Homo sapiens: one gene and its partner. The protein of the gene in region 2 purifies or fractionates together with the protein of the main gene of each other region. This does not show direct contact. Each region holds a gene or a part of one and is shown on either strand. Other genes may lie near its edges.

Region 1 (3,660 bases), on a different chromosome or scaffold from region 2:
TAACGAGTTTCCAGATACTGCTGCTAATGCTGCTGGTCCAGGGAACACATTTTGAGAATCAAGGGCTTAGAACCTTGCCACTTAATGTCTGGTCCCTGGACCAGCAGTACTGGCATCACGTGTCTTAGATCCCACCCTAGTCTAATAAGATCCCTATATGATTTGTATGCACATTAGAAGTTTGAGAATACTGGCTTAGAGCACTCTTAAACTTAACTGCACATTGGAAACACCTGAGAGTTTTAAAATAATACTGATGCCTGGGTCTCACTCCAGATACTCCGATTTGATGGTTATTGGTGGTGAGGGGGGCATGGATCAGACATCAATAGTGTTCAGAGCTCCCTAGTTGATTCTGATGTGCAGCAGAGTCTGGGAACTACTGACTTAACATAGTGATGCCACACCTGGCCATGGCTCTGAATCACCTGGGAGGTGCTTACAGGTCCCATCTTGGCTGATCTTGATTCAGTGAGACCTGAAGATCCAAGTTTTTCAGGTTTGTGACTATCTGGCTATATTTATATCTATAGAATAAAGGAATAATGGTCAGGTTTTCTCCTTTGTAAGGAGTCCATGTTTTATAACCCCATGTTTGTGGCTTTACTTCATAAACTGCATCCCCAGACATGAGTCATGCTCTAAGATATGGACCCTTAGGCCTTTTTTTAGACCTTGTTTGAGCAGGTTTCCTGGAGGTAGAGCAGAGCGAAATCACAGTGTCTGTAAGGAGCCCCAGTTAACCCTCTACAGGGCAAGAAAGGGGACACTTGTGGCCAAAATTAGGCTTCTGAAGTGCCTAGTGAAGCATCCACTCTTTAGTACAGTACTCTGAGCATTAATTATGCTTCCTGGCTTCTTTCACACAGCTTCAGATGGTCTGTTGAAGCCTCTCCTGGCTCTAGGCTGAATATCTAGAGTAAAATAATTATTTCAATAAGTAGAAGGAGAATGGCTGGGGAAAAGCCGCTTTCATCTATGAGCTTCTGGAATGGAAAGACAGTGGTGTTAGGAGAAGACTGACTTTCAGGAGAGCTTTTTATGATTTGCATCACGACTGTGATAATGGGAGTGCAGAAAGACACTTCAGACCATTCATGAAAAGGGCTGCTTTTGATAAACATAGCTGTATTTTCTTATTCTTTATGCCTCTTGACTGTAAGCTCCTTGAGGACATGGGAAGATCATATTTATCTTTGTGGCCCCAATGGCTAGCACGAGCCCAGCACGTATAGATGCCCAGTGGGTCTTCACTGAACAAATGCGAGGGTACCCGCAATCCAGGTTGTTACCAAGCCACACTGGCTCAATTCATATAATTAGTTTGGCTCTCTGAAAAGCACCAAGTGAAAAGATAATTTCTCTTTTGTACTGTTAGTGGTCTGTCCTGCTGTCTATAAAACGGGAGCATTTAAATATAAAAAGAGTGGTCTGGTTCTTCAAGCCGAAGCCTCAGAATGTTCCTCTGCTTGCCTGAATTCCTTCTGCTTTAGGATAATATTGGATTTTTCTTTTCTGAATATTTTCCCCCCAACAGGGGAGTAGTCATTAAAAATCCATATCGTGCAGTTCTGTACTGGCAGCTAAAAGCTGATATTTGATGATCTCTGTAGGTGTCACAGGGCTCTGGTGATAAAGCAAGCCACAGAACCAGGGCCAACTTAGACACATTAGACACAGTAGACACAGTGCCTAGGGCCCACAATACTTTTAGAGGCCTCTGCAAAAGTTTTAATTTCTTTTAAAATCAGAAGAAAAAAATGAACTTTTAGGGTCAAAAGTTATATTTGTCTTTATATTGATGCAGTTGTAAAATATAATTTTTAATATTATCTGAAGGAGCAAGGAGCCTACAAAGGCAGAAGCACCTAGGGCTCATGAAAGTTATGACACAGCTCTGCACAGAACTGGTCCCTTGGGAGAGCCACACATAAACATGGCAGGACTGGTGGCAGCATCAGGGTGGTGACTGGTGCTATGCGGAGAGGAGTGAGCTTTCTTTTCTTTCCCTGTCAGTTCACAGGTATGACCCGGCAGGATGCTTTTCTAGCCCTGACTCAGAAAGCCCGGGGGAAGAGAGTGGGTGGAGACGTGACAAGTGATAAACTGAAAGACTGGCTGATTTCACGGCAGCGGTACTGGGGCACACCAATCCCCATTGTCCACTGCCCAGTCTGTGGCCCCACACCTGTGCCCCTGGAGGACTTGCCTGTGACCCTGCCCAACATCGCGTCTTTCACTGGCAAGGGAGGCCCCCCACTGGCCATGGCTTCAGAGTGGGTGAACTGCTCCTGCCCAAGGTAAGGAGCCACATCCCTGCAGTGGTGACTGTGCCTATGGCCCCATACCTGCTAGGGCTTCAGACAGCCTCCTCCCTCCTGGTGCTAACTCTGCTCCCTTTTTCCCTGACTTCCATGAGGCTGGAAAGAACACTGTGGGTCTTTGGGGCCCTTTAAGAGAAGGGTCTGGAATCTGTGGCCCTGCCTCTGCAATGGGCATCCTCCCTTCTCTGAGCTGTTGGAAGCAGCAGTGTCAGTTCAGATCTATCCCAGAAACATCTGATCCAACTGATGGAAAAGCTCTAAATTTTCCTTACAGCTTTGTAAAAAACCACTTTCCTCCATTTTGATATTCCAAAGAGCCACGTGGAGAGGGGAGAAAATGTTCTCTTCTCCACCTTGCAGTTTTCCAATATAGTGACTGTAACAACAGTGGAGATTTTATCATGAGTAGCAGAGTAGTTGCTAAGAGAGCAAGTGTGCTCAGGGCTGCATTCTTTAATATGCTGAAGCACCATGGTTCCTTTCTCCTCATTTTGGAAGTGGGATTATGTTTTTCTGTCTATTCACTGGCATGTCTCAAGCATGATTTTTAATGATGCTGTCCATATCAGCTAATTAAACAAATAGCAGATACCAAGTTCCAGTATTTTCCTTCTTCTGCGGAGAAGCCATTTTTCTCTGCCTTATAGATCATGATGAGGATATTATAAAATAATTTTGTATTCTGCCAGTATAGAGCTGAGTTACTAGGTTGACAATTAGGTAACCACGTAGTGTAATTGGAAGTCTTGAGCTGGGTGTCAAATCAGTGATGGATTCAAGTCCTGGCTCTGCCTCCTAACTAACTGTCTAGCCTTGGGAAAGTCATTTACCTTCTCTGAGCGTGAAATCCCTCATCAGGAACAAAAATAACCCCATTGAAGGGCTTTTCAGAAGACTAGAATTAACACATGTGATCCTGCACAGTGATACCTTCTAGGCCTTCAATAAATAGAAACTTTATGGCCATCCAGCCAGGGACTTGCCAGCCATCCTCCCAGGTCCTCACTGAGGCAGTTTTGAAATTCAAGGTGGAACTTGGAGGGAGGTATATAGGAAGGCCCAGACCATTTTAGGGTAGAAATGTTGGCTCCAGGAGGAAAATAGCACACCCTCTTTGTTGATAAGCGCTGACAAAGGGCTTCCCTACCAGAGATGTTGGTGGCCTGCATACAGCACAGCAGTTGTGGCCTTATTGATGAGGATAAGGTTTCCTGCTTGGCTGCAGAATTACTGGAGGGCAGAACCTAGGCCTTGGTGTTGGGCAAGGCTCCCTGGATGATCTTTTTTTTTTTTGAGATGGAGTCTCGCTCTGTCGCCCAGGCTGGAGTGCGGTGGT
Region 2 (3,466 bases):
TGCAATTCGAACTGAGTATATGTATATAATATACACTCATACATTTATGTATTTCTTTTTAAATAGGGGACATCCTGAAGTTCTTGAAAAAGAAGAAACCTGAAGATGCCTTCTGTGTTGTGGGAATAACAATGATTGATCTTTACCCAAGAGACTCGTGGAATTTTGTCTTTGGACAGGCCTCTTTGACAGATGGTATTCCGTTTTTGGCATTGTTGTTAGAAGCTTCTTCAGCTTGAGAATATTTGAAGATGTTAGAAGAGGGAAAAAATTCCAACCAAGAATCATATTGATATTTAAAATATTTTCAGTTGAGACATTATGCCATAATGGGAAGTGTGCTGTTGGTAGATTGTGATAATCTAGGTTCTGGTTGGCCACTCACTACCTACAGGACCTTAAAGGTAACAATACCCACATCATGGAGTCATTTGGAGATAATTTACATAAAAGTGCCTGTACATAAAAAGTGTGGATAAGCCTGGACAACATAGACCACATGTCTACAAAAAAATAAAAATTTAAAAAACTAAATTAGCTGGGCATGGTGGCACATACCTGTAGTCCTAGCTACGCAGGAGGCTGAGGTGAGAGGATTGCTTGAGCCCAGGAGGTTGAGGCTGCAGTGAGCCATGATCGAGCCACTGCACTCCAGCCTGGGCAATAAAGTGAGACCGTGTCTCAAAAAAAAAATGTATATATAGGCCTGGCATATATATAGGCATACAGCATAACAGCTAGTAAATGTCAGTAATTCAGTAGCAAGGTGAATTAAACCAATTACAGTTTGAGCTATCAATGGATGTGAAAATCTTGCTAATTATTTTTCAATTCTTTTCATAGTCATCTTGCACAGTTAGAATAGCCATAGACTAAGTGTATGCTTCTTTCTCATCATACGACATTTGTTTTTTAATTTAAAGAGTCAAAACGTCCATCTTTGATTTGAGATATGTAATAAACCTTGACTCATTAGGAACTCTGTATGGTAATATTAGGGATGGGAAAGGTTCTGCAAACCGGTCATATTTTTAACCTTTTTTTTTTTTTGTCATCTCTCTACTTCTCCCCTCCCCTTAATTATTGTTCTTATTTCTCTAACTTCATCCCTAAGAATCCAACACAGACTTGAAAGGGAAAAGGCCCCCTAAGGGGAGTGGTTCATTAGTGTTCTGGGGATGGGGAGTAAGTACAGGGACTATCCTGAGAGTTTATGGTCTGTCTGGATGTTACATTAGCCTTAGGATTTGTGTGGGGTGGTAAGCTTTTTGGGACAAATGTTTCTACTAGAGGTGGGGGCTGTAGGGTTATAGAGCCTCTTCCCACTTACTCCTTTATTCTTTATTCTCCATTTATGTGAGGTTTCTTGTGGCCCCCATGGCCCTACCAGCATGCACTCTTGGAGACGTGGGTCACTACTTTCTTACTGATTTTGGTGGTGTGAGGTAGCTTTTTATCATAAGTTTTCTCTTTTATTATTAACCTGATAGAGATGGAAACATTGAAAAATAATTCTATCTACCTTTTATTTTTCTTTTGAGACAGAGTCTCCCTCTGTCACCCAGGCTGGAGTGCAGTGGTGTGATCATGGCTCACTGCAACCTCAACCTCCTGGGCTAAAGGGATCATCCTGCCTCAGCCTCCCGAGTAGCTGGGACCACAGGACCACCACACCCGGCTATTTTATTTTATTTTATTTTTGGCCAGATGGGATTTTTTTTGGCCAGATGGGATCTCCCTGTGTTGGTCAAGCTCATCTTGAAGTCCTGGGCTCAAGCGAGCCTCCCATCTCAGCCTCCCAAAGTGCTTTGATTACAGGTGTGAGTCACCACACCCAGCTAAAAAAATAATTTTAAAACCATATGTTCGTTTATCTAGATATTGCTAGCTAACTTATCTTATGTGTTTGAGGAGGTCAGGAAACATTTCCCCAAACTGTATTTACTTTAATTCTTTTTTTGGTAAGTTTCTTAAATATTACATGACATAAAAGATTTACATAGGAAAGTAGCAGGATTAGACAGTGACAATATCTTAACACAGTGGTCTTGTTTTCTCCGAGTTTACAAAGATTGATATTTTTAAAGTGAGACGCATTGACTACGAAAAAAATAGTCTATTTGTAGGATTATTGGAAGAAGGAAATGTCCTTGCTGAAAGTAGTGAAATATGCTCACACTTGATTGGCCAGAGGGGGTTACTTGTGATAAAGGAATAGATTTAGTGTGCTCTTAATTTCCAGAATGCTATCTTTGCTTAATTTTCAAATATCAGTCTACATTTTCTGGGTAAAGGGAGGTGAGGAAGTTTGTTTTTGAATCAAATTAGATTGGACAAATCTACTATGGGTTTATTACTTTAAAAACTGAACGAGAGACATAAATAAAAGTGATCATGTAAACAAGTCGAATTATGAAGCAGTACCCTGTAGGGTGAGTTATGTAGCAAACCGTGTTCTCTGTGCTTGCAGAGATGGTTGATATAACTCTAAATGTAACACAGGAAGTCAGTTACAAGGGTATTTATTCTGGTCACCAGACACTAGTGACAGAATAGAGTTGAGCTGTTCTTTGAAAAGGGGGTAGGGTTGGGGAAGGGGACGAGGTTATTCTGTCAAAAGCCGTGGTTTAAAGCATGGGCTTCAAGACATCAGGGGCAGTTGTCCTCAGTCAGTGCTGCGTGAGGGAAGGCCAGCAACCCCTCCAGACACACGTGTAACAGATCTGTTTAGTGTGTCCTTAAATAGTGAAATCATGACTTCCTATTGTTCATGTGATTTTTTTTTTTTTGAGACTGAGTATCACTCTATCGTCAGGCTGGAGTGCAATGGTGCGATCTTGGCTCACTGCAACTCCGCCTCATGGGTTCAAGCCATTCTCCCGCCTCAGCCTCCCTAGTAGCTGGGATTACAGGCACCTACCATCATGCCTGGCTAATTTTTTTTAGAGACAGGGTTTCACCATGTTAGCCAGGCTGGTCTTGAGCTTCTGACATCAGGTGATCCACCTGCCTCGGCCTCCCAAAGTCCTAGGATTACAATCGTGAGCCACCACGCCCAACCCATGTGGTTATTTTTTATGATTCCTTTTTGAGTACTTGATTTGGAGTACTTGCTACTTTCAGAAAAAGACTTCTTTTGTGGGAAAAGACTCTCTGAAACTTCAGTTTCTCAAGCATTTGACCTCAAGTCCATTAAGTTTTACAAGGCAAGGCAAAGTGGATAGCAGCAAAAGATTTTGATAGGGAAATCTGGGGCAAAAGTCTTCCTTTTTGGTGGCAAACCATAAGTGTATCAGATGGTGTGGACACAGTGACACAGAGATGCACTCACTGGCCAGATGGGCCAGCAGTCTCTTCTTTCTTTGGTCTTTCTTCAGGGACCTTACTCTCATTCTGTCACTGTTTGTCCTTTTTTTGTAGGTGTGGGGATATTCAGCTTTGCCAGGTATGGCAGTGATTTTTATAG

The links. Proteins that work in one complex are often made in the same cells at the same time.
Region 1: the proteins of AMZ2 (region 2) and LARS2 purify together in Homo sapiens (co-immunoprecipitation; one large-scale study listed by IntAct). This does not show direct contact.

The regions. Positions count from the first base shown.
Region 1 is NC_000003.12:45,489,501-45,493,160, forward strand, and holds part of LARS2 (leucine--tRNA ligase, mitochondrial), read left to right. Parts: intron 1-2,016; coding exon 2,017-2,300; intron 2,301-3,660.
Region 2 is NC_000017.11:68,250,984-68,254,449, forward strand, and holds part of AMZ2 (archaemetzincin-2), read left to right. Parts: intron 1-66; coding exon 67-195; exon of another isoform or gene 196-404; intron 405-3,420; coding exon 3,421-3,466. UniProt on the Homo sapiens protein: Probable zinc metalloprotease.